Homo sapiens: one gene and its partners. The protein of the gene in region 1 purifies or fractionates together with the protein of each later gene. This does not show direct contact. Each region holds a gene or a part of one and is shown in the gene's direction. Other genes may lie near its edges.

Evidence for each region.
Region 2: the proteins of CAPRIN1 (region 1) and PRRC2A purify together in Homo sapiens (affinity purification with mass spectrometry; one large-scale study listed by BioGRID and IntAct). This does not show direct contact.
Region 3: the proteins of CAPRIN1 (region 1) and RAB3GAP2 fractionate together in Homo sapiens (co-fractionation; one large-scale study listed by BioGRID). This does not show direct contact.
Region 4: the proteins of CAPRIN1 (region 1) and DNAJC21 fractionate together in Homo sapiens (co-fractionation; one large-scale study listed by BioGRID). This does not show direct contact.
Region 5: the proteins of CAPRIN1 (region 1) and PPP6R3 fractionate together in Homo sapiens (co-fractionation; one large-scale study listed by BioGRID). This does not show direct contact.
Region 6: the proteins of CAPRIN1 (region 1) and IARS1 purify together in Homo sapiens (affinity purification with mass spectrometry; one large-scale study listed by BioGRID and IntAct). This does not show direct contact.
Region 7: the proteins of CAPRIN1 (region 1) and NBEAL2 purify together in Homo sapiens (tandem affinity purification; one large-scale study listed by IntAct). This does not show direct contact.

The regions. Positions count from the first base shown.
Region 1 is NC_000011.10:34,058,231-34,061,730, forward strand, and holds part of CAPRIN1 (caprin-1), read left to right. Parts: intron 1-2,247; exon of another isoform or gene 2,248-2,961; intron 2,962-3,500. UniProt on the Homo sapiens protein: mRNA-binding protein that acts as a regulator of mRNAs transport, translation and/or stability, and which is involved in neurogenesis, synaptic plasticity in neurons and cell proliferation and migration in multiple cell types.
Region 2 is NC_000006.12:31,627,215-31,630,714, forward strand, and holds part of PRRC2A (protein PRRC2A), read left to right. Parts: intron 1-550; coding exon 551-1,025; intron 1,026-1,929; coding exon 1,930-2,120; intron 2,121-2,333; coding exon 2,334-2,631; intron 2,632-3,376; coding exon 3,377-3,500. UniProt on the Homo sapiens protein: May play a role in the regulation of pre-mRNA splicing.
Region 3 is NC_000001.11:220,262,454-220,265,953, reverse strand, and holds part of RAB3GAP2 (rab3 GTPase-activating protein non-catalytic subunit), read left to right. Parts: intron 1-3,500. UniProt on the Homo sapiens protein: Regulatory subunit of the Rab3 GTPase-activating (Rab3GAP) complex composed of RAB3GAP1 and RAB3GAP2, which has GTPase-activating protein (GAP) activity towards various Rab3 subfamily members (RAB3A, RAB3B, RAB3C and RAB3D), RAB5A and RAB43, and guanine nucleotide exchange factor (GEF) activity towards RAB18.
Region 4 is NC_000005.10:34,928,361-34,932,558, forward strand, and holds the start of DNAJC21 (dnaJ homolog subfamily C member 21), read left to right. Parts: upstream 1-1,459; coding exon 1,460-1,556; exon of another isoform or gene 1,557-2,001; intron 2,002-4,198. UniProt on the Homo sapiens protein: May act as a co-chaperone for HSP70. May play a role in ribosomal RNA (rRNA) biogenesis, possibly in the maturation of the 60S subunit. Binds the precursor 45S rRNA.
Region 5 is NC_000011.10:68,568,752-68,572,251, forward strand, and holds part of PPP6R3 (serine/threonine-protein phosphatase 6 regulatory subunit 3), read left to right. Parts: intron 1-996; coding exon 997-1,146; intron 1,147-2,288; coding exon 2,289-2,353; intron 2,354-3,500.
Region 6 is NC_000009.12:92,287,198-92,290,697, reverse strand, and holds part of IARS1 (isoleucine--tRNA ligase, cytoplasmic), read left to right. Parts: intron 1-1,271; 5' UTR 1,272-1,278; coding exon 1,279-1,397; intron 1,398-2,415; coding exon 2,416-2,572; intron 2,573-2,724; coding exon of another isoform or gene 2,725-2,787; coding exon 2,788-2,907; intron 2,908-3,500. UniProt on the Homo sapiens protein: Catalyzes the specific attachment of an amino acid to its cognate tRNA in a 2 step reaction: the amino acid (AA) is first activated by ATP to form AA-AMP and then transferred to the acceptor end of the tRNA.
Region 7 is NC_000003.12:47,006,934-47,010,201, forward strand, and holds the end of NBEAL2 (neurobeachin-like protein 2), read left to right. Parts: intron 1-132; coding exon 133-222; intron 223-307; coding exon 308-417; intron 418-591; coding exon 592-764; intron 765-882; coding exon 883-977; intron 978-1,136; coding exon 1,137-1,253; intron 1,254-1,349; coding exon 1,350-1,508; intron 1,509-1,586; coding exon 1,587-1,735; intron 1,736-2,055; coding exon 2,056-2,191; intron 2,192-2,285; coding exon 2,286-2,387; 3' UTR 2,388-2,768; downstream 2,769-3,268. UniProt on the Homo sapiens protein: Probably involved in thrombopoiesis. Plays a role in the development or secretion of alpha-granules, that contain several growth factors important for platelet biogenesis.

The DNA.
Region 1 (3,500 bases):
GGTTCAAGTGATTCTCATGCCTCAGCCTCCCGAGTAGCTGGGATTACAGGTGCATGCCACCACGCCCAGCTAATTTTTGTATTTTTAGTAGAGACGGGGTTTTGCCATGTTGACCAGGCTGGTCTCAAACTCCTGACCTCAAGTGATCTGCACGCCTTGGCCTCCCAAAGTGCTGGGATTACAGGCGTGAGCCACCACACCCGGCCTCTTAAATAATGTTTTATGGGAGTAATTAGAATTTGTAATGTTCCACGGCCTAAGTGTAGTTTTCATGTTTAATTATGTAGAATCAAGTAAAGCCTTTTGCTTCAAATCCTTAGAGTTTTTCTGTTTTAAAAAACTGAATGCAAAAGAAAAATGCTTTCCATTTCCTTATTATTAGACTTTTATTAATGTCTCATTGTTGAACTTTGTGTTTGCATTGTCCGGGTAATGGGGTTCTGAGAATATCGGTAAGGTAAAATCCCAGTGTGTCAGGTATCATTGGGACATCCATATTGTAATGAAATAAACTTTTATAAAGTTAAAACTCTGAAGTTTTTCTTTATGTTTAGCTTCCTATGTACATTTGTCAGACTCTACTCCAGCTTGGTATGTTGTAGACCGGAAAAATCTGGAAAAAGCATTACCAGTAGAGAGAAATAAGAAGTGTGACAACCTTTTCATCCAAATTACTGTATTCCAAGCTTCTGGGTATTTTTTGGTAGTTGGTTCCTTTTTCTGGGGGAAATGAATGGTGTGTGTGTATACAGTATAGAAGAGTGAGAGGAGTAGCAGAAGAGAAATTCATCCAAAGTTGGAACTGTAAATTGCTTTGTTTTAGCTCATTTATTTCTTTCTTTCACTAGCTCTACTACAGTGCTTTTGTTAGATAGACTATGAGTACAAAAACGTGGGTGAAAGATAATTTACTGAGTAGAGTTCAAAATTCAAACTTCCTGAGGAAAGGGGAGGGTGTGCTTCTTGACCATGCTCAGCTAAAGTAGTTTGTTTCCTTTAACTTCCCCTGTTACCTATTGTCTGTACACTTCTTGACATTGTTTTTTTTTTTTTTTTGAGACGGAGTCTTGCTGTGTCGCCCAGGCTGGAGTGCAATGGTGTGGTCTTGGCTCACTGCAACCTCCGCCTCCTGGGTTCAAGTGATTCTCTTGCCTCAGCCTCCTGAGTAGCTGGGACTACAGGTGCATGCCACCACACCTGGCTAATTTTTTGTATTTTTAGTAGAGACGGGGTTTCGCCATGTTGGCCATGCTGGTCTTGAACTCCTGACCTTGTGATCTGCCTGCCTCGGCGTCCAAAACTTCTTGACATTTTTATATTGCCTTGTGTTGTTAACCTTACATGTTTTTCTAAATTGGTAATAAGCTCTTTGTGGGCAGAGACTATTAACATTACTTTGCTGCGCTTTCTCACACATGGTATATGCTGAATAAGTACTTGGTAGTTTGGCCAAATCATTACATAGAAATATCTGTAGCTTCATTAACAACCCTGTTAAAATGGATTAATCCATGGGGTTAGGGAGGAAATGCTTTTTGCACAGAACTATTTACTTGCAGTGTTTTTTTATTGAAATTGATTTTTTTCCTGAAGGGTTTTTTACTTTTTACAGGTGTGTAGAGTTGATGAGTAGGCAAGTAGAAGAATACTTTTTTTTTTTTTTTTTTTTTAAGCTGGGTAGCAGGCTGGGCATGGTGGCTCACGCCTGTAATCTCAGCACTTTGGGAGGCTGAGGCAGGTGGATCACCTGAGGTCAGGAGTTCGAGACCAGCCTGGCCAACCTGTGAAACCCCGCCTCTATTAAAAATATGAAAAATTAGCTGGGCATGGTGGCATGCAGCTGTAGTTCCAGCTACTTGGGAGGCCGAGACAGGAGAATTGCTTGAACCTGGGAGGCAGACGTTGCAGTGAGCCGAGATCGCGCCACTGTTCTTTAGCCTGGGCAACAGAGTGATACTCCATCTCAAAAAAAAAAAAAAAAAAAAAAAGCTGGGTAGCATTAGCAAGATATGTGAATGGTCTTAAGAGAACACAGATAATTCTTATTATTAGAACCATTGTACATTATTGGAAATTTCATTGCATTCTCCTCAATACTGTTCTAAAAATATTTTAATTTTAATTTTTTAGAGACAGGGTCTCACTATCACCCAGGCTGGAGTTCAGCAGGGCAATCATAGCTCATTCCAACCTTGAACTCTTAGCCTTAAGCGATCCTCTTGTCTCAGCCTCCCAAAGTGTTGGGATTACAGGGTTGACCCACTGTGCCTGGCCCCCCTCAATACTGTTATCTAAACATAGAAATAACTGAAATATATTTTAGTCATTAAAAAACCCTTTGGGCTTACACTTTGAGTTACATTGAACTTCTTTTTACATTGTGGACAGGAAAGATAGTAAGCAAAAGTTTCCTCAATTTTTAAAAGGACGACGGTAGAAAGAACACATTGCAATCTATAGATGATCCATGGCAGCTATCTTCAAATGCTGAAAGCTTGCTCATGTAGCAGGAGTCTGTGCTGTTTTAGAAAACGAAAAAGTATTAAAACAGTGATGGTGGGGATGTAATTTTTTTACATTTAACTCCCAAGGAATGTATTAATATAAATAAGTTGTACAGAATTATGCTAAGGAATAGCTTGGTTAAAGCAACTAATATTTTGAAAGATGCCCTTTAAGATTATTTATGGTAATTTGCTTTTCAAATCTAGAAGCTTTAGACTTTTTAAGAATATAGTTCAAAGTAGGTGATGCTGGAACTTGTTAACATTTCTTTTTCCTACTAGAGTCAGCTGCTTCAATTCACTCAGACTTACCTGCATAATTATAACCTTGGACAAGGAATAAAGGTTTTTACAGGATTGGCTTTTATCTTTTTTAAAAAATTGGACAAACGGCTTGTGAAACTAAACTCCTGGATACTTAACCTGCTTGAAAAATTATCTTACAATGGAACCTTAGGTAACATCCTTTTTTTTTTTTTTTTTTTTTTTGAGATGGAGTTTTGCTTTTGTTGCCCAGGCTGGAGTACAATGGCGCAATCTCAGCTCACTGCAACCTCTGCCTCCCAGGTTCAAGTGATTCTCCTGCCTAAGCCTCCCAAGTAGCTGGTATTATAGGCAACCACCACCGCACCCGGCTAATTTTCTGTATTTTTAGTAGAGACCAGGTTTCATCATGTTGCCCAGGCTGGTCTCAAACTCCTGACCTCAGGAGATTCGTCCACTTTGGCCTCCCAAAGTGTTGAGATTACAGGCATGAGCCACTGCACCTGGCCTAGGTTAGCATTCTTATGCCATTCTTAGCGTTCAGAAATCCAGCATTCCTGACAGGTGTTCATTCAGCCTCTGCTTTAACCAGTCTTCCAGGGCCTGGTAGAGTGCTCGTTTCTCAATGAAAATTTGTTTCATTGGTGTGCCACTCTTTAAGTTCTTGGTGGTAGAAGTATATCCTTACCGGCCGGGCACAATGGCTCATGCCTGTAATCCTAACACTTTTGG
Region 2 (3,500 bases), on another chromosome or scaffold:
AGGGATTGAGAGGGTCAGCTGTGGGAAATTGGTGTCAGCTGAGTAATTGAAGCGGTTGTGATATAGAGGAAGGGGGGTGCTAAAAATGGGCTGTGTGAAGTGCCAGGCTGCAGAACATCCTGGGAAGCTTTTAAATATCTTTGGTAATAGGGGAGTCTGGGTAAGAAGTGAGAAACTGGGATGCTAATGAGGAAAGAAGAAAAAGGAGCCCTGGGTGTTTGGGTTTCGGAAGGAGAGAGGGAACAGAAAAATAAAAAGACTAGGGTGGCTAGATAGCTGGATCTGTTAGTATGCATCAGTAGTCCAAGCTACTCAGCAGGCTGAAGCAGAAGGATCACTTGAGCCCAAGTTCAAGACCAGCCTGGGCAACATAGCAAGACGTGGTCTCAAAGAAGACCAGGATAATGAGTTTGTCACCACCCAGAGAGATCAACCCCAAAGCCTGGGTCGTTGCATCCTGCAAGTAGCGACAGTTGATTTGTTGTAAAAGAGATGATAGAAAGCATAGTAACTGATTCCCCTGGCCCTGCTGGGTCTTGCCAATTGACAGGATCGTGGGGGTCCTCCCTGCAAGCCCCCAGCACCTGAAGATGAGGATGAGGCATGGCGGCAGCGACGAAAGCAGTCGTCATCTGAGATTTCCCTGGCAGTGGAGCGGGCCCGGCGACGGCGAGAAGAAGAGGAGCGGCGCATGCAAGAAGAGCGCCGGGCAGCCTGTGCTGAGAAGCTCAAGCGACTCGATGAAAAGTTTGGGGCACCTGACAAGCGGCTCAAAGCAGAGCCTGCTGCCCCACCTGCTGCCCCTTCTACCCCAGCTCCACCACCTGCAGTCCCTAAAGAACTCCCTGCACCTCCAGCTCCACCTCCAGCATCAGCCCCAACACCAGAGACAGAACCTGAAGAGCCAGCACAGGCCCCTCCTGCCCAATCTACTCCTACTCCAGGTGTGGCTGCGGCTCCCACTCTGGTGAGTGGTGGTGGCAGTACCAGTAGCACCAGCAGTGGCAGCTTCGAAGCCAGCCCAGGTATGGAGATGGGGATAGGTACTACCAGATGTCAGATCACTGCTTCAAGGTGCTTAAAGGTGCAGGGTGGTAAGGCTGGGGATAAATGAAGTAGAAGGCAGTTGTTTTGGTTTATTGGACTATCAGTGATAGTGTTCTATCATTTGTATATCTGAAGGAGGGAAGGTTTTGTCTGGAATCTTAGGTTGTAGTCTAATACCATTTCTTGGCAGAGTACTGTAGCTCACGCCTATAATCCCAACACTTAGGGAGGCTTGGGGTGGAGGATCGCTTGAGCCTAGGGAGTTTGAGACCAGCCTGGGCAACAAAGCAAGACCCTGTCGGCCAGGCATGGTGGCTCACACTTGTAATCCCAGCACTCTGGGAGGCCGAGGCGGGCAGAACATGAGGTCAGGAGTTCAAGATCAGCCTGGCCAACATAGTGAAACCCGTCTCTACTAAAAATACAAAAATTAGCCAAGTGTGGTGGCATGTGCTTGTAGTCCCAGCTGCTTGGGAGGCTGAGGTAGTAGAATCGCTTTAACCCGGGAGGCAGAGATTTCTGTGAGCCAAGACCATGCCATTGCACTCCAGCCTGGGTGACAGAGCAAGACTCTGTCTCAAAAAAAAATCCTGTCTCACAAGAAATACATAAATAAAAATGAAAACTATTTCCTATAGGCCAAGACTGAAGAAAGTACTGTTGTTCTAATGGTTTCATAGAAAGTTAATGCCACCACCATAGGCTCATGAGAGGCCATGAAGTGCTTTAATGGGTCTTAAATGGGAGGGGCTTCAATAGAATAGATGTTGAATAGAATATTTTAGTCTTAAGGGAGCTAGAGATGAGACGTGAGATTCCTGGGGTGTTCATGGAGTGTCTATTGTTGGACTAGATCACTCTGTTGTGTTTTTTCCGATGCAGTGGAACCACAACTGCCCTCAAAAGAGGGTCCTGAACCACCAGAAGAGGTTCCTCCTCCTACCACACCCCCAGTTCCAAAGGTGGAACCCAAGGGTGATGGGATTGGTCCCACCCGCCAGCCCCCTAGTCAGGGCTTGGGCTACCCCAAATATCAGAAGTCGTTGCCTCCTCGTTTCCAGCGGCAGCAGCAGGTGAAATCAAGTTGTTTACCCTCTAAGGGCTGCTTTTCTTCCTGGCTTCGGTCCCTAATTCTCTTCATAAGTTACCTTCTGGGTCCCTTTGCTTCTTTGTCCAGTTGTCTCCATTGTCACGCCAATTTCCCCTAGTCCAAGTTTTTTCTTTGCTGATTCCTTTGTCCATGTGTGCTTTGAGCCTCTCTCATCTTGTCTTTCCTCCTTTCCTAGGAGCAGCTCCTGAAGCAGCAGCAGCAGCACCAGTGGCAGCAGCATCAACAGGGCTCTGCCCCTCCTACCCCAGTGCCCCCATCACCACCACAGCCTGTGACCCTGGGGGCTGTGCCAGCTCCACAGGCTCCACCCCCGCCCCCCAAGGCCCTGTACCCAGGTGCTCTGGGCCGGCCCCCACCCATGCCCCCAATGAACTTTGATCCCCGATGGATGATGATTCCTCCTTATGTGGACCCCCGGCTCCTCCAGGGTCGTCCCCCTCTAGACTTCTACCCTCCTGGTGTGCATCCCTCTGGTAAGGGGGCATGGGAGGAGTGAGAAACAGGAAAGTCCCCTCAGTCTTAGGCATTGGATATTAGGGTCTTACTGTGACTCTGGTACGATAGGTTTTGCCCATCATAGTGATGAGGGAAGGGCATATGCTTGGCACTGCTGAGATAGCTCTGTTGCAAAAATGGGCTTAGTTAAGAAATAAGCAGTGGTTGGCCAGGCATTGTGGCTCACGCCTGTAATCCCAGCACTTAGGGAGGCCGAGGTGGGCAGATCAACTGAGTTCAGGAGTTCGAGACCACCATGGCTAACGTGGTAAAACCCCATTTCTACTAAAAATACAAAAAAGTAGCCGGCGTGGTGGCGCTCGCCTGTAGTCCCAGCTACTCGGGAGACTGAGGCAGGAGAAACGCTTGAACCCAGGAGGTGGAGGTTGTAGTGAGCCGAGATTGTGCCATCGCACTCCAGCTTAGGCAACGAGCGAAACTCCGTCTCAAAAATGAATGAATGAATAGCACAACTCCATCTCAAAAATGAATGAATGAATGAAAGAAGCAGTGGTCCTTCATTTGCCAGGATTTATTTGGGGTGGGTTGATTCTCTTGTAGGGAATCTGAGTGGATAACCTTGTTATATAAGAGCAGGCAAGGCCCGGACCTACTGGGAACAAGAGATGGAAGAGCTGACTTGACCGCGAGGGGAGATGCTTTTTGGGCTGGAGGGCTTGTGACATGAATAGGATTATTTTTCTTTTTCTTTGGTTTCTTCAGGCCTAGTTCCCCGAGAGCGTTCAGACAGTGGGGGCTCAAGCTCAGAGCCATTTGACCGTCATGCACCTGCTATGTTACGGGAACGGGGCACTCCACCGGTGGATCCAAAGTTGGCCTGGGTAGG
Region 3 (3,500 bases), on another chromosome or scaffold:
TTTTTTGTTTGTTTTGTTTTTGTTTTTTAGAGACAGGGCCTCACTCTGTCACCCAGGCCAGAGTGCAGTGGCATGATCATAGCTCACTGCAGCCTTAAACTCCTGGATTCAAGGGATCCTCCCACCTCAGTCTCCTGTGTTGCTAGGACTACAAGTATGCAGCACCATGCCCAGATAATTTTTTTGGTTTTTGTTGAGATAGGGTCTTGCTGTGTTGCCCAAGCAGGTCTTGAACTCCTGGGCTTAAGTGATCCTCCCACCTGGACTCTCAAAGTGCTAGAATTATAGGCATGAGCCACTCTCCCTGGTTTATTACTTTGAAGTTGCAGGGATGGGTGGAGTATAGGTCCCCACTTTATGGGTCCCCATTTAACCTATAGTGACATAATTTCCAATGCCTAGACCAGAACTTTCTGAAATTTACAGTTGGGTTGGGCAAAAATATAAATAAATATATAAATAAATAAATACATGAATAGAGAGGGAGAGCCAGAATAGTTGGAGATAATTTGGGTATTATAATATTGTGGATTTCTTGATTTACCTAATAGTAAAATAATTTCTTATTGACATACTAAAAATGTGGAATAGTTTTCCTTCTTGCCTCTTTTACCAACCAGAATATAAAGCATGTAGGGAATTATGTTGAAATAATCAATTCATGTTTTTAAGCAATCTCTGAGAAAAATGTGCTTTATTTAGGATAACCTAAAATCATAGAATCACTTTGCATAATGGGCTATCACAAATGATATAAAATACTCTATTTTTTATATGTAGTAAAATATTTTCTCTAGTTTGAGATCATACTAGGAGAGAAAATAATCTGAAAATAGAACATTTATAGAGATTTCAGAAAATATATAGAGTTACTGGGTTTCTTTAAAATTGGAAGAGGATCATACAGATAAAATTTTACCAGTGAGGAAATTGAGATTTGAGTGTTCTTCAGTTTCTTCATTCAGGTAGTATTTATTGAGCATCTACTATGTTCTAAGCACAAAATGAGTTTAAAGATAAATAAAATAAGTCCCTCAAGCAATTTTCAGCTAATAAAAGAAGACACGTATGTGAAACGATTGTTAGAGGTGTTATGCTATGATATGGCACATGATGGGAGAGAATGAAGGAGTGTTGGTCTAGTCTATGCAGGAAACCCAGAAAGTCTTCATATAGGAGGTGATATTTACACATTAATAGTTTAAAGATGTCCATCAGATGGAGAGAAAATAGACAACAGATGTGAAACAGTATGGGATTCAGAAAGCTGCAAATAGTAAATTGTGGTGGGAGGGTGGGATGTGTTCAGAGGTGAAATTGAAGAGGTTGGTGAAGGAGTTTAGATTTTATTCAGTAGCAGGGTCTTTAGATTGAAGTAAGAGTACCTTGGGATCATGGAAATTTATAAAAGGTTGCTTGGGAACAGATGATTTTAAGTAAATCATTTTCCACATGTACCTGTGAAAGTGCCTACTTTCTCACCCTGCCTTCTCCCACTTTATCTCTGACACGTTTGTAGTCTTATTATAGTAAGTTGCTTCAAGGTGTAAAAAAAACCTCCCCTTTAATCAAAGTGTTGTAAATTCCTCCATTCGTTTTATTATTAGTTTTCCAAATTTTACTTTTTGTTTAATTATCAAGATTTATGATATATTTATGTTGTTTTCCTCACTTATTTACATAAAATAATTGTAATAACTCAAGCAAGAAGAAAAATGTTAATACTTAAGAGTCTTATCACAGGAAAATGTTTTCTTAATTCATATCCTTTTTTGCAGAGAGAGTTTTGTACTGATAATAATAAAAATCTGTGTTTATTAGAATAGCATTCTGTGGAGGAAGTAGAATAGAAATAAGTATTCAAGGAGAATAAAGGACTTGTAAAAACTGTTGAGAAGGTCAGCATTTTTTTTTAATGGATGTCGGTGGGTATCATTTCCCTATAGTGTTTAGAATCCACTAAGTTTTAAAAAGTAATAATAGTTTTATGTTTAAATGTACATGTTTATAGTATAACAGAAATTACATATTTTTTGCAAGAGATACATACTAAAAAATTCTTTTGGGGCATATATGAACAAAAAATTTGAAGGTCATTCTCCTGTAAGACTCAGTGATTCCCAGTCTTGTCTTTTCTTTTTTTTGTTGGCATAATAGCGTACATAAGAAAAATGAGATATGGACCCCAAACAGCTAAAACAATTTTGGAAAAGAAGAAACAAGTTAGAAGATTCACACTTTCTGATTTCAAAGCATATTGCAAAGCTGTAATAACCCAAACTGTATGATACTGGCATAAAGACAAACAAACCAATGGAATGGAATAGATAGCTGATAAGTAAACCCTCACATACATGGTCAAGATGATCTTCAGCAAGTGTGCCAAGAGCATTCTTTGGGGGAAAAGACAGCTTCTTGAATATATGATGTTAGAGGAAATGGCTATCCATATGCAAAAGAATGAAATTGAATCCTTATCTTATACCATATACAAAAATTAAATAGATTAAAGACCTAAATGCAGCACCTAACACTGTAAAACTTTAGAATAAAACATAGGAGAAAAGCTTCATGACATTGGACTTGCATGCTTTTGGATATGACACCAAAAGCATAGGCAGCAGAAGCAAAAGTGGACAAATGGGGCTACACTAAGCTTAAAAACTTTGTGCATCAAAGGACACAATCAACAGTGTGAAAAGGCAGTTTTCAAAATGGGAGAAAATATTTGCAAATCATGTATCTGATATGGGATTAATATCCAGAATATATAAAGAATTCCTGCAACTCAATAACAACAACAAAAAATCAACCCTATTTAAAATGAGCAAAGGACTTAAGTAGACATTTCTTCAAGGATGATATACAGATGACCAAAAAGAACATGAAAAGATGCTTAACATCACTAATCATCAGAGTGATGCAAACCAAAGCATAATGAAATGTTACACCTATTAGAAATGGCTACTATAAAAAAAAAAAAGTATCAGGATATGGTGAGGATGTGGAGAATTATAAACTTTTGTGCATTGTTGGTGGGATGATAAGATGGTACAGCCATTAAGGAAAAAATAAGAGTTCCTCAAAAAATTTTAAAAAAATTATATGATCCAGCAATATCACTTCAAGGTGTATATACAGCAGAATTGAAAGCAGGGTCTTGAAGAGATGTTTGCACACCCATGTTCATAGACAGTTCACAGTAGCCAAGAGGTGGAAACAACCCAAATGCCCATCGATGGATGAATGGATAAACAAAATGTGGTATTATACACACAATGGAATACTGTTTAGCCATTAAAATCAAAGAAATGTCACATGCTATAACATGAATGAACCTTGTTAAATTATGCTAAGTGAAATATTCCAGTCACAAAAAGACAACTACTATATGATTCCACTTACATGAGGAAGCTAAAGTAGTCATTTATAGAAACAAAAAATAGAATGGCGGTTACCAGAGGCTGAGGAAAGGGAGAACGGGAATTGTTTAATGATAC
Region 4 (4,198 bases), on another chromosome or scaffold:
ACCAATTTACCAACTAACTGAGACTGTGTAGAATCTTCCTCTGGAAAAAAGGGAAGTGTATGAATTCTGAGTAGTGAGTTGGTTGGTCAGTGGCGTGTGAAGTAACCTGATGAAGCTTAGCGTGGGTTTTTTATTTTACTGGGGGCAGCATATTGGGGAAGAGAAGGATAACCTTACTAAACCGCTTGGGTACGCCAACCCTGTGCAATAGATATTAGCAACATAGCTAACCATACATGGTTAGTAAATACAACCCACACCTAACTGATGCATGTAAACATTCCACATTACAGTGAAATATATTGGTGTATTAATGCATTTTAATAATTATGGTATTATTTTGATACCTTTCAAAGTGTTTGGAATAATTGTGCAGATAGTCAGATCAACCAAAACCTACCAGTTAAATACTATCCTTTAACTGCTTTCTTAACCTAAACCAATCTTGGAAAGGTAGGATTAGAGGCCAGAAAGTTAGGATTAAAGTGTGTTGGATGGATAGATCAGCACAATTTCATCCATGTTGGTGGTAAGGCTTTTCATTAAGTGTGTTGATGCTTCCCTTTTAAATTGTTTCCGCTTAAATAATCTAACTGTCCTTTCTCAAGCATATTGGTCAAGATGATCAATACCAGATATCTTAAGTGGCAGCTGAAGAGAATTAAAGAGATTAAAAAAAAAACCTGATATTCAGTCCAACCGAATTCTGCTACTGTATTAGCTGAGGAGGCTTGAGCCAACCACTTGACCACTTGGAGTCTGAATCGCCTTATCTATAAAAACGGGGATCCATTGAGAAATTATAATCAGATATTTTCCAGAATCCTCTCCCATCCCAGCTCCTATCTCCCCCTTCAGCCCTCAGGTCGGCTGCCACTCACACTGACCGCCATCTGTGCCCCTCACAATGACACCAGCGTGGCCCTGCCTCCCTTCCGCGCGGCCCCGCCTCTCGCCCCGCCGAGGCCCCGCCTCTCACACCAAGGTCCCGCCTTCCTCCTGTTCTTCCCGGCCAAGGCCTACCTTCCTCCCACGCGGCCCGCCTCTTTCCCCGCCAAGCTCCCGCCTTTCTCCTGCGCGGCCCGCCTCTCTCCTCGCCAAGGCCCCGCCTTCCTTCCTCGGGGCCTCGCCTCTCACCCCGCCGAGGCCCCACCCCCTCCCGCGCGGCCCTTTCCGGCACAGAGCCCACCCCTAGCCCATGCGAAGCGGCGGCCGCCGGCACCGCCCCCGCCGCGCTCCCGCTTGCCGCAGCCTGCGTCGTCTGCCGCCACCGCGCGCCTTCACTGACCTACACCACCGCCGCCGCCGCCGCCGCCGCCGGGCTCGCTGGCTGGCCCGGTGCGGGCGGCGGACTCCCGCCGGAGAGGACTGCCAGCGCCGCCGCCGCCGCCGCTTCGGCCCGGGCCCGGGCCCCGACCCCGTCCCGGGCCCCAGCGCCGGCCGCCCGCCCGGTCGGGCGATGAAGTGTCACTATGAGGCGCTGGGGGTGCGGCGCGACGCCAGCGAGGAGGAGCTCAAGAAGGCCTATCGGAAGCTGGCCCTGAAATGGCACCCGGGTAAGTACCTGTCCCGCAGCCCCCGCGGCCACTCGGAGAAGCCCGGCCCTCCCCGACCTTCCCTTCCCCCGGGCGGACTCCGCGGAGCCAGCAGAGAGGGACCTGGCGGCCTAGGAGCTCCTTGCCCCGCCCGGCCAGTGCCCGGAGCCGCCCTGCCCGTCTCGGTGGGCGAAGCGCTCTGCCCTGGCGCACCCCGGCTCACACCCCATCTCCTCATACCCGCGACCCCGGCCCCGCATCGCCACTGTAGGGGGAAAACTGCAGTCCAACAACCTCACTTGCTCCCGCTACCGGGTCGCAGACACCACGAGGGAGCAGTCGGGAACTCGGAACTCAGACCTGCCCCAGGCTTGCTTTTCCCTGCGTCCCTTGCAGCGCAGCCTCTCGGTGTTTTTCCTCCGCTGCCCTCCACCTCGTCCGGGAATCCCAGATACTTCAACCTGATGTATGGCTCTTTTCGTTTCTTAGTTAAGAAGTTAAGACACGGGAGCTAGTAAAATATCTTTTCAATAGGGATGCGCTTTTTTCGCTGTTTTTTTTTTCTTTTAATAAGCTGTTTAAGCAGACCTTGTACTTCACTTTGGACATGATTCTGCCGGGGAAGGTTTTAATCAGGCGGCTTCCCCAGTAAAGTTTGTATGTTTACTTAGAAGTATCCTTCCTTTGGATGTTTCATTGGTCTGTAATCCAGGCCTGTGTGACTTTTATGAAGTAATCTGATCTTCCAGGCTGGGAAACTAAGAGAGTAGTTGACTTTCAGCTTTTTGAGGTTCATATGAAGAGGCTTTCATATTAGCATTCATCAGTAAACACGGTTACAGAGTATCCAATATATGCAAGTCACTGCACTCTACTAAGTAGATTTGGAAATGCTGAGACAGGGGTCTTAGAGTCTTGTTAGGAAAACAACTTTCTGCCTTACACAAATGAAAAGTTAAATACAACTGCCAGAAAAAAATCGCAACATACATAATTGGTGGTTAGATTAATGGAACAACTAATATATGCTCCAGGAATTCAGGGAGGGAGTTACCATTTTGTATTGAGTCTTCCCCTTCTCAGAGGAGTTTGGACTGGATCGTAGAGGAATGCAATTTGGAAAAGTGAACTCAACAGTATGGAGGATAGCATGGTGGAGGACAAAAGATGTTCCGGGGGACAGTTTGACTGAAGGTGGTGTGTATTGCAGGTCTGAAAAATAGGGATTATGAGAGGAGTGGAAGGAAAGGTCAGGGACCCAAAGTCAAAAGGGAATGGCTATGGTGATGGAGTGAGAGATAGAGGTGTGGGTCTGTTACTTAAAGTTATGCTTACCAACAGAGGCGTGAAAAAATGTGATTATAAATATATTAGAAGAGCAGAAGTAAATGAACTGATGTTCATCATAGCAGTAAGTCAGAAGATACAGCCAAAATTAATAAATGTAAAAATAGTGTAGAAGTATATTCTTAGAGTTTGGGTTAGTGTAGAAGCATATTCTTAGGAGTTTGGGTTGTTACTGTTAGAAATCAAGTTAGGAATTAGAAGGAAGTTCGGAATTCCTTGACTTTCTAGGTGGGAAAGGGTAAATGAAGTAGCGAATGCTGTGACCAAAAGCGTATGTAATTTTCTGAAGAGTGATTTTAAATCAGATTGTATTTCTTGAGTACAAGAGTAGTTTGAAATCAGATTGTATTTCTTGTAATCTTGAATATTAGCCCAAGGACTGTGAAATTTGCTTCGCTAAATAAGGGAGAGTTGTGGCTGGTTTTATTAAGCTGCCATGGGAGAGTACTATGAAGGCAACTTAGTGGATTGAAGAGGGCTGGAGACAGAAGTTAGGGAGAGTCCGCAGTGGACAGACAGGTAAGGGCCCAAGCCAGGCTTGGGGTCAGCGGGAGGGGGAAAGCGCAAGGGGAGGAGATGTTGGGAAGGAAAAATGACCAGATTTGGTGATTAATTAGAAATCAGTGCTAGGAAGAAGCATGCAAATATGACTAAAGTATCAGTTAACTCCTTTGAAACCAAACCTGTTAGGAACTGAATGCAAATATCTTCTCTAAATATCATCATAATTTATGGCATCAGTGTGATGGTATCTGAGAATGGGCAGCAGGAAGCCCTGAAGAGCCATGTTCTAGGGCGGCAAAACTATTTGTAGATAAGACATTGCTGTCATGTTTTCTTGTAACTTCTTAGAAGGGAAGTATTGAGCTGTAGCTTAAAGAACTTTAGTGTGCTCCGGCCAGGTGCGGTGACTCACACCTGTAATCCCAGCACTTTGAGGGGCTGAGGTGGGCGGATCACCTGAGGTCAGGAGATGGAGACCATCCTGGCCAACATGGTGAAACCCTGTCTCTACTAAAAACACAAAAATTAGCTGGGCGTGGTGGCGCACGCCTGTGGTCCCAGCCACTTGGGAGGCTGAGGCAGGAGAATCGCTTGAACCCAGGAGGCAGAGGTTGCAGTGAGCCAAGATCGCGCCACTGCACTCCAGCCTGGTGACAGAGCGAGACTCCATCTCAAAAAAAAAAAAAAAAACGAACTTTAGTGTTCTCCATAGTCAATTCAAAATGCTTTACGTTCTGAATATATTAGTTGTCTATTGCTGTGTAACAAATTACCAATACCTCAGGGCTTAAGACAACAAACAACAAAAACAG
Region 5 (3,500 bases), about 35 Mb from region 1:
ATCAAAATGAAATTCTTACAATTTTTTTTTTTTTTTGAGATGGAGTCTGGCTCAGTCGCCCAGGCTGGAGTGCAGTGATCTTGGCTCACTGCAAGCTCCGCCTCCTGGGTTCACGCCATTCTCCTGCCTCAGCCTCCTGAGTAGCTGGGGCCACAGGCGCCCGCCACCACACCCAGCGATTTTTTTGTATTTTTAGTAGAGACGGGGTTTCACCGTGTTAGGATGGTCTTGATCTCCTGACCTCGTGATCCGCCCGCCTCGGCCTCCCAGAGTGCAGAGATTACAGGCATGAGCCACCACGCCTGGCCTCTTATAAATTTTTTTGAAAATTATAGAAAATTTACCACGCTAACTATTTGTGTTAGTTGCTTTGAAGAGAAAAAAGATACTCCCTTTCTCTTGGAGAAACGTACTCTTGTCTTTGTATGTTTGTTGTTGGTTTTTTACTAGATTCCATACCAGTTCTGGCATGTCAGATAAGCAGATAGCACGCCATTTAGGCTCTAAAGCAATACTTCACATCCCCATTTAGTCCTCGTTATTTATGAGGGATACCTTCCAAGACTCCTTTGGATGCCTGAAACCACAGCTATCGAACCCTATATATACTATGTGTTTTTCCTATACATACCTGTGACAAAGTTTAATTTATAAATTAAGCACAGGAAGAGATTAATAATAACTAATAATAAAGTAGAACAATTATAAATCTATACTGTAATGAATGTTATGTGAATGTCATCTCTTGGATTAGCATGTCTTACTGTATTATACTCACCTATTTTCAGATCATGGTTGACTGTGGGTAACTGAAACCACAGAAAATGAAACTGTGGTTATGCAAGTACTAATGTGAACTCAGGTTCCTTTTAATTGGTCCTTTTGGACTGAGAGCACATCATTTTTACTTTATTAAATCACTGTTCTGTAAATGTATTTAAGTATTGGCTTAAACATTGAGGTAACCGAATAAAACATGGTTTTTCTTTTTTGTAGAACATGTTCTTCAAGTATACATGGAATAACTTTTTGCATACACAAGTGGAAATTTGTATTGCACTGATTCTTGCAAGTCCTTTTGAAAACACAGAAAATGCCACAATTACCGATCAAGACTCCACTGGTGATAATTTGTTATTAAAACATGTAAGCTTATTTGGTCTCGTTTTTCTCCCACTCTCTCCTGGTTATAGCAGTTTTCCACTTGACTGTGATGTGAATTGAGGTTTAAAGGGCTTGAGGTTAGATTTCAGAGTCTAAATATTTGACAATCATGTGTTCGTTTCACTTTTAACATATAAATCATTATATAAATCAAGTACTGGACAAATAACTATTAAATGAACAGTCTTGTAAGAAAAAAGCTAAGTGGCCTCCTTATTTGGTAAAATTAATAGGTTTGAAGATATATAAATTCTTTGATGATTTGAAGAATCATAGAAATTTAAATACTATGGAAAACATTTGCACTATTATTTGGCTGACCAGAGTGTAGTTTCTTTGCTGAATACGTGACTGAAAGTCAGGAGAACTGAGTTCTTTGTGATGTTGAGAGTCTTCCTGGGGTCTCTTTTTCTCTTCTGTCAAATATGAGATAATTTTACTAAGTCAGTCTTCAGATTTTTTCTTGCTTGGTAGTTCTATGGTACTTTTAAAATTTCTAGCCCACACTTGGTTTACTCGCAAACCTAAAATGTAGAAAAGGCTAGCTTGGAACAGCCAAGTTGATGGGAAAGACAAATGACACCTGAGAAGAACTAGCCCTGCACATTCCAGTATTGCAGCCTACAGCAGTTGTCACTGACTTGCAGACTTTGGGCAAAACCCACCTGTTTTTAATATTAATGCAGTAATGTTAGTTCATCTGGAAGTAAGACGTGCTCACATTTTAAAAGTACAAGCATTACTTTGGATTCTAAGTTAAATTTTTGCCAAGGCATAGTTTTCTTTATTCCATTTTAATTTAGCTCAGGTTTTATATTTCTGTTCTGAATTTTCACAGCTAATAAAACCTGGCTTTCCTTTATAGTTAACTATAGGTAGTTAACTGCACTACCTATAATACTGAGTTTCCTGTAGATGTTCTGTGGAGGGTGTGGATCCTGATTTGAATCTCTGTAGTGTTGTGGGTGTCTGCAGTAGATTGATGATCACATTGCATTTGGCTTAGTAACATTTAGCTTGCTAGATTATGCATACTACTATTCTCTTTAACCTAGAGTTCTGTTTCACTTTAAAGTTTTGATGCTTTGAAGTATTAACTGGAATATTCTTTTTTTTTTTTTCAGCTTTTCCAAAAATGTCAATTAATAGAACGAATACTTGAAGCCTGGGAAATGAATGAGAAGAAACAGTAAGTAAATTGTTTTTTTGAAAGGAATTCAGTTTGGTTGGTAATATGAGGAAAATAATACCTCCTTGCCCTAGTCAGAAAAAAATGGAAATAATTACATGATACTGGCCATTTTACAATTTAAACTTTTCCCCAGATTATTTCATTGTAACAGTTGTTTTTATAATACTAATAATTTCTTGTTAGGTCCTCTTGTTTTTGGGGCAAAACAAGTGAGTTCGGAGTGTTCCCCACCTCTGTGCTGCCTTTGAAACTTCCTGGTCCTTTTTGAATGGCTACTGTTCTAAGAGTTATAAGGTTAAAGTTAAGTCCTTGATGATGTGACTTAGTGTATTTGTCCTGGTCACCTTATGCTCAGAACAGAAGGTATCACGTACATATTTTCATTGTAGAGAAGAGTTGCTTTGTACAGGGACCTAGAGGAAAAAAATTGCTCAGTGTTTTCTTTTTAGAAAATGTTTGTTAGCTGATTGGCAAGGTTATGTGAAGTATTAGTTGATACATGTAAGTAGCTTTGTTACACAAAACGTTTTCTTACAGGTGTTGTCTGTAACAGCATTCCTCTCTAGTGCCCTGGAAGCCTTTATGTCACCCCGTAGATTCTGAAGCATGGTGGCATAAGGGCGTGTTTGGGAAACACTCTGAAGGCATGCTTCTGTGTTTGTTTTTAAGACAGGTTTATTGAGATATAATTCTCATATGGTAAAGCTCATTTTAGGTGTACATTCCTAGGAATTCTGACTGATGCCTGAAGTCACCATCACCACAATCAAGACATTTCTGTCACCCCCAAAATTTCTCTCATGGTCCTTTGTAGTTGATCATTTCCCAGCATTCTTGTTATGTGTCTCTGTGTCTCCAGGAAAGCTAGATGACTCTTGGGAGTCAGCCTTACTTTGTGAGGTTTGATTTTTTTTTTTTAAATCGTTTAATAAGCACTGCTACTAGGGTTTTGATTTGGCTTCATGTGGGAAATTGGCATTTTGTTTGTTTGTTTGTGGCAAGGGGCTAGTATTGGTAGACCTCAGATACATTCTTCCAAATGGAGCTCTTTGGAGATGCTGTTTGTGGCCCAGTTGACATCTCTGGTTATATGTCTGACTCCGTCTTGGCTTCTCTGTGTCCTTCCCAACCTCCAGTCTTCTTG
Region 6 (3,500 bases), on another chromosome or scaffold:
AGCCATGTACCCCTCCCTCACACCATATACGAAAATAAAATTATTTGTGGCCTAAATGTAAGCGAAAAATCTATAACCTTGTTTAGGTAATGGTTTATTGATGACACCAAAAGCTCAAGCAGCAAAACCAAAAATTGACAAATTGGGCATCATTAAAATGAAAAATCTTTGTGCTTCAAAAAATGCCATCAAGAAAATAAAAAGACGGCCCACAGAACAGGAGAAATTTTTTATAAATCATATATCTGATAAAGGATTTGTATCCAGGATGTATACATAACCCTTAAAACCCAACCACAAAAAGAGCCCAATTAGAAAATAGGCAAAGGATAAATATCTATCCAACGTGGATACGCAAATGGCCAATAAGCATGTGGAAAGATGCTCAGCATCATTAGTCCTTAGGGAAATGCAAATCAAAACCACAAGATACTACTTAACATCTCCTAGAATGACTGTAATTCAAAGATGGACAATAAGATGTGTTGGGTAAGATCTGAAGAAATTAGAATCCTCATTCACTGCTGAGGGAATGTAAAATAGTACAGTCACTTTGGAAAAATTTTGGCATTTTCTCAAAAAGTTAAATACAGAATTATCATGTGACCCAGAAATTCTACTTCTAGCTACAAACCCAAGAGAAATGAAAACATAGATCCACACAAAATTTTGTATGTGAATGTTCATAGCAGCGTTATTCGTAATAACCAAAAAGTGGAAACAATACAGGTATCCAAGAAATGATGAATGGATAAACAAAATGTGGCATATTCATGAAATGGAATACTATTCAGCTATCAAAAGTAATGAAGTATGAATACATATTACATCATGGATGAGCCTTGAAAACATGCTAGAGAAAGGAAACCAGATGCAATAGGCCACATATAGATGATTCCTATAAATTTTCCCATTTATATGAAATGTCCAGAATAGGTAAATCTGCAGGGACAGAAAGAAGATAAATCGTTGCCACTGGCTATGGAGAAGAAAGAATGGGGAGTGACTGCTAATGGTTTTGGGGTGTTTTGGTGGGGAGGGGAGGTTGAAAACGTTTTGAAATTAGGTATTACTAGTTATACTACCTTGTAAATATACTAAAAAGCCACTGAATTGTACACTTTTTACATTACACTATGTAAATTGTACATCAATAAAGCTGTAATTTTTTAAAAGTATGGATAGTGTCATGTACACCCATGTTAATAATATGGTACTCTGTTATTCCTAGATTTCTCTTTTGACAGTAATAAATTTGATTTCTTTTGCAGCAACAAAATGCTTCAACAAGTTCCAGAAAACATAAATTTTCCTGCTGAAGAAGAGAAAATCTTGGAGTTTTGGACTGAATTTAATTGTTTTCAGGAATGCTTAAAGCAATCAAAACATAAACCAAAGTATGTGAATTTTTTAGGTTAAGTTCCCTTAAGAATAGTCATTTCTTAGACTGAATTCCATTAAAGCAGATACTTTTTTTTTTTTTTTTTTTTTGAGATGGAGTCTCGCACTGTCATCCAGGCTGGAGGGCAGTGGTGCAATCTCTGCTCACTGCTACCTCTGCCTCCCGGATGCAAGTGATTCTCCTGCCTCAGCCTCCCGAGTAGCTGGGATTACAGGTGCCCGCCATCACACCAGCTAATTCTTGTGTTTTAGTAGAGACGGGGTTTCACCATGTTGCCCAGGCTGGTCTCGGACTCCTGACCTCAAGTGATCCACCCACCTCGGCCTCTCAAAGTGCTGGGATTACAAGTGTGAGCCATCACGCGCGGCCTAAAGCAGATACTCTTTATTAATCTTTCTATTCCCAGAATCCCCCAGCTCCCTATGTAGTGGGTACTCAGTAGTAGATATACATTGAATGAATGAGTTCTCAATTATTGGGGTAAATTTTGTTTCTTTAAAAGGTCATCTGAGTAAAATTTATGTGTCATCCTCCGTGTCACCCTCTTTCCACCTTTATTTTCATCACCACCCTCGTTTAGGCACTTATACCTAAGTACCCCATAGAAGGCTACTATAGTACTACCTGCCTTTAGTCCTCATTCACCTAAAAGACTAGTCCTTTAATCAGTGTTTTCATTATATGTCTCCTCTGGTCAAAAACTATGAGATAGGGGTTTATTGCCCTATTTTACTGATGAGATAACTCAAGATCAGGATAAATAATTTGCCTTATGTCATGGAACTAATAAATGAAAAATGGATAATCAAATGGAGGTCTCTGTAGCTCTACCACAATTGTAGCCTTTCTGAAGGCAGGACCACCAGTAAATATCAAATCAATTATGTCTGTCGGTTTCCTGATCTTGCTGCTTTTCTCCTTGAAGACTCCACTATGACAAGAGCTATCTATAGAAAAATGCCTTAAATTTTGGCTGTTTTTAAATGGCTTGATATATTTTTATTACCTGTTAGATTTACCTTCTATGATGGTCCTCCTTTTGCAACTGGACTGCCTCACTATGGACATATACTTGCGGGTACAATTAAAGATATAGTTACAAGATATGCTCACCAGAGTGGGTTTCATGTTGACAGAAGATTTGGATGGGATTGCCATGGCTTACCTGTGGTATGTTTGAGTATCCAGCTTTATAATTTTCTGATTTTTTTTATAAGCATTAGATTTTGTCATATAATATGTTCAAGTATGATGAACGTTGACTGTCAGACCTTCTAGTTCATTTCTATAATATTTGTAGTTTGATTTGTTTTGTTTTCTAGAGTTGCATAGTTGCAGTTGTTTTCATAGGGCAGCGTGGTAACAGTCTTATCACAAATTTTCAGGAATATGAAATTGATAAGACACTGGGAATCAGAGGACCAGAGGATGTGGCCAAAATGGGGATTACAGAGTATAACAATCAGTGCCGAGCAATTGTGATGAGATATTCTGCTGAGTGGAAGGTATGTTGGGTTTTTTTCAGTAGAATGAACAGCAAATGTAGTTACTAAATGGGCATTGAAATGGTTTATGGTCCCTTGTGCTTTTTTTATTAATTTATTTTTTGTAGAAAAAGTGTTAGCTTCCACCTTCAACCCTATTACTTAAACGGTTAGCTTAAACTGAACCATCTCTCTTCTGACTTCTGTGTGCTTAATTGGTCTAACTTTCTTGCATGATCACCAATAGGGAAAAATTCTAATAAGTATAACATGATATATAGGCCTTTTCTTTTTTTCTCAAATACTTTTTTCAATTTTTTTAACTTTTCATTTTGAAATAATTTGACTTATTAAACAATTGAAAAAGTAGTATGATGGGTTCCCCTATATCCTTCATCCATCTTTCCCAGCTGCTAACATCTTCGGTAACCATAATATTAATAGAATTTTCAAAAGCAGTTGCCCCATTAATTTTTATTTCTGACCAATCACATATTGCATTTGGTTGTCATGTCTTTTTAGTCTTCTTAAGTATGGAACATTTATTTAGTCCTTTGTATTTCATGGCCTTCTCACTTTTGAAGATTGCAGAACAGCTATTTTCTATAATGTCT
Region 7 (3,268 bases), on another chromosome or scaffold:
AACCTCTGCATCTGTGACACCTACTCTATGACCCCTGGGGACTGACAGTAAAGGAAGGGATGATGCTTCAGGGAGCAGATAGTGTAATCTGATAGTACTCAGGCATAGCTAGGCCTGCCCTTGCCCCTGCAGGTTGTCAGTGATGGTGTACCCCTGGTGCTAGCCCTGGTCCCCCACCGGCAGCCCCACTCCTTCATCACCCAGGGTTCCCCAGACCTGTTGGTAAGTGCATTGTGCAGAGCCCCAGCTCAGCTCCACTCCCCCTTGCCTCTGCCAGAAACCCACCTCTGCCCCCTCCTGCCTGCAGGTGACTGTGAGTGCCAGTGGGCTGCTGGGCACCCACAGCTGGTTGCCCTATGACCGCAACATAAGCAACTACTTCAGCTTCAGCAAAGACCCCACCATGGGCAGCCACAAGTAGGACAGAGGGCTGTGGGTGGGGTGGGCTACAAATGCCCTGCACCCGGAATTATTCCCCTCCCTAATCAGAATGTAGGCCAGCTGCAGGGGAAAGGTCTGGCCAGGCTCCCTGAGGGCCTGGGTCTCTTCCATGTGGCCTGGCCTCACTTGCTATCCCCCTCACTGGGTCAGGACGCAGCGACTGCTGAGTGGCCCGTGGGTGCCAGGCAGTGGTGTGAGTGGACAAGCACTGGCAGTGGCCCCGGATGGAAAGCTGCTATTCAGCGGTGGCCACTGGGATGGCAGCCTGCGGGTGACTGCACTACCCCGTGGCAAGCTGTTGAGCCAGCTCAGCTGCCACCTTGGTATGAACAGCCTTGGAGCTGGGGAGAATGAGGCACACAGGTATGGGGCCGGGTTCTGAGGCTGGCCAGGGCGGATGTGACTCCTCCGTTCTGCCTGTACCCTCCCCTTCCCATGCAGATGTAGTAACCTGCCTTGCACTGGACACCTGTGGCATCTACCTCATCTCAGGCTCCCGGGACACCACGTGCATGGTGTGGCGGCTCCTGCATCAGGTGTGCCTCGTGGGCAGCTCTGTGGGGCCCCCGTAGCCCAGACCTGCAGCCCATCCGTCCCTCAGTGGCCTTCCAGTCCTGTCCTCCTCTAGTCTTGGACAAGGCCTTCATTTCCTGAGCCTCAGGGGACAGTCCTAAGCCAACCCTGGTCCTCCACAGGGTGGTCTGTCAGTAGGCCTGGCACCAAAGCCTGTGCAGGTCCTGTATGGGCATGGGGCTGCAGTGAGCTGTGTGGCCATCAGCACTGAACTTGACATGGCTGTGTCTGGATCTGAGGTGTGTGTATGCATGTGCCCTGGGGAGGGTGAGTTTCCTGGGCAATCCCCCTGGAGCCCAGACTCCTGCCCAGGACCCTAAGTTGCCTTCCTGCAGGATGGAACTGTGATCATACACACTGTACGCCGCGGACAGTTTGTAGCGGCACTACGGCCTCTGGGTGCCACATTCCCTGGACCTATTTTCCACCTGGCATTGGGGTCCGAAGGCCAGATTGTGGTACAGAGCTCAGCGTGGGAACGTCCTGGGGCCCAGGTATGGGGAAGGGGTGCCCAGCAAAGATGGAGGGGCAGTTGGGATCCTGTCCTTGCTGACACTCCCTGCTTCCTCCAGGTCACCTACTCCTTGCACCTGTATTCAGTCAATGGGAAGTTGCGGGCTTCACTGCCCCTGGCAGAGCAGCCTACAGCCCTGACGGTGACAGAGGACTTTGTGTTGCTGGGCACCGCCCAGTGCGCCCTGCACATCCTCCAACTAAACACGTAAGCCCCCCATTTATGGGTTCATGGCCCCTGAAGGTGGTGGTCATTGGTGTAGGATAAAGGCCCTAGGAACCCACACACCATACATGTTTGTGGGCACATATTTCAAGGTTTGTTACCTGTCCCTTCATCTTCCCATGGGGAGGTCTTGCCCTGGGCCTCCGCTTAGCCACAGTTGTGGGAGATTTCTTTGTGTATAAGAATTTCAATTTAACCATCCTTAAAATGAGGACAGAGAGGGTATATGGGATAAGGGATATCTGCTGGTCGCAAAGCCCCCTTGCAGTCGCAAGTTGGTGTATATCCCCTCTCCCTTCCAGACTGCTCCCGGCCGCGCCTCCCTTGCCCATGAAGGTGGCCATCCGCAGCGTGGCCGTGACCAAGGAGCGCAGCCACGTGCTGGTGGGCCTGGAGGATGGCAAGCTCATCGTGGTGGTCGCGGGGCAGCCCTCTGAGGTGAGGATGGGGCGGGGGTGGGGAGGCCCCTCGAACGGGGCGGGGCGTGGCGCGGCGATCCCAGCTGATCCTACTCAACCCTTACGCCCACCAGGTGCGCAGCAGCCAGTTCGCGCGGAAGCTGTGGCGGTCCTCGCGGCGCATCTCCCAGGTGTCCTCGGGAGAGACGGAATACAACCCTACTGAGGCGCGCTGAACCTGGCCAGTCCGGCTGCTCGGGCCCCGCCCCCGGCAGGCCTGGCCCGGGAGGCCCCGCCCAGAAGTCGGCGGGAACACCCCGGGGTGGGCAGCCCAGGGGGGTGAGCGGGGCCCACCCTGCCCAGCTCAGGGATTGGCGGGCGATGTTACCCCCTCAGGGATTGGCGGGCGGAAGTCCCGCCCCTCGCCGGCTGAGGGGCCGCCCTGAGGGCCAGCACTGGCGTCTGCGGCCGCAGCAGCACTTTTTGCACAGTCTGGGGCGGGGTTCCCCGGCTTCCAAGTCGCTGTTTCGTCAAAGCACGAGGGCCGCCTGTGGCCTTAATTCCTAACGGCGGCCCCGGTTCTCCCTTCTCGGCAATAAACCAGGCCTAGTTTTGTAGCTGCTCCGTCTCCGAGTGTGCGTTCGCGCGCAGCGTCTCGGCCTGCCATGGCCACCGTCCCAGGGTCGCCGTCTGAGTCTGGCCTGGCTCGCGTTCCCCTGGCCCGTGACCCCCTCTGGGCCCACTCGCCCCCCCTCCGCGTGGCCGTCGCTGAACTGGGGCCTCAGTTTACCCGGCAGTGTAGCCCCTGCCCCACATCTCGCCCCGGCTTGTGGTTTCCCCACGATCTCTTCATGGGGTCGCCTTCGCACGCCATTCGTCCACAACCGCAACCCGGCCAGGCGCCCCGCAGGCGCGTTTGCATTCCTTCGCCGGGCAGGGGCGACAACACCCGAGGCCGCGCCCCTCCAGCTCGGCCCTGCCACCTCATTGTCTTGCCTACTTCTTGGGCCGCCCTGTGGCGCCGCTGTGGTCTCGGGGTTGGGGGTGGGGGGCCAGAACCACCCCAGAGAGTCCACGTTGTCTTCCCGGAGGGCTCGGTCCTGCCCTGCTGAGTGGA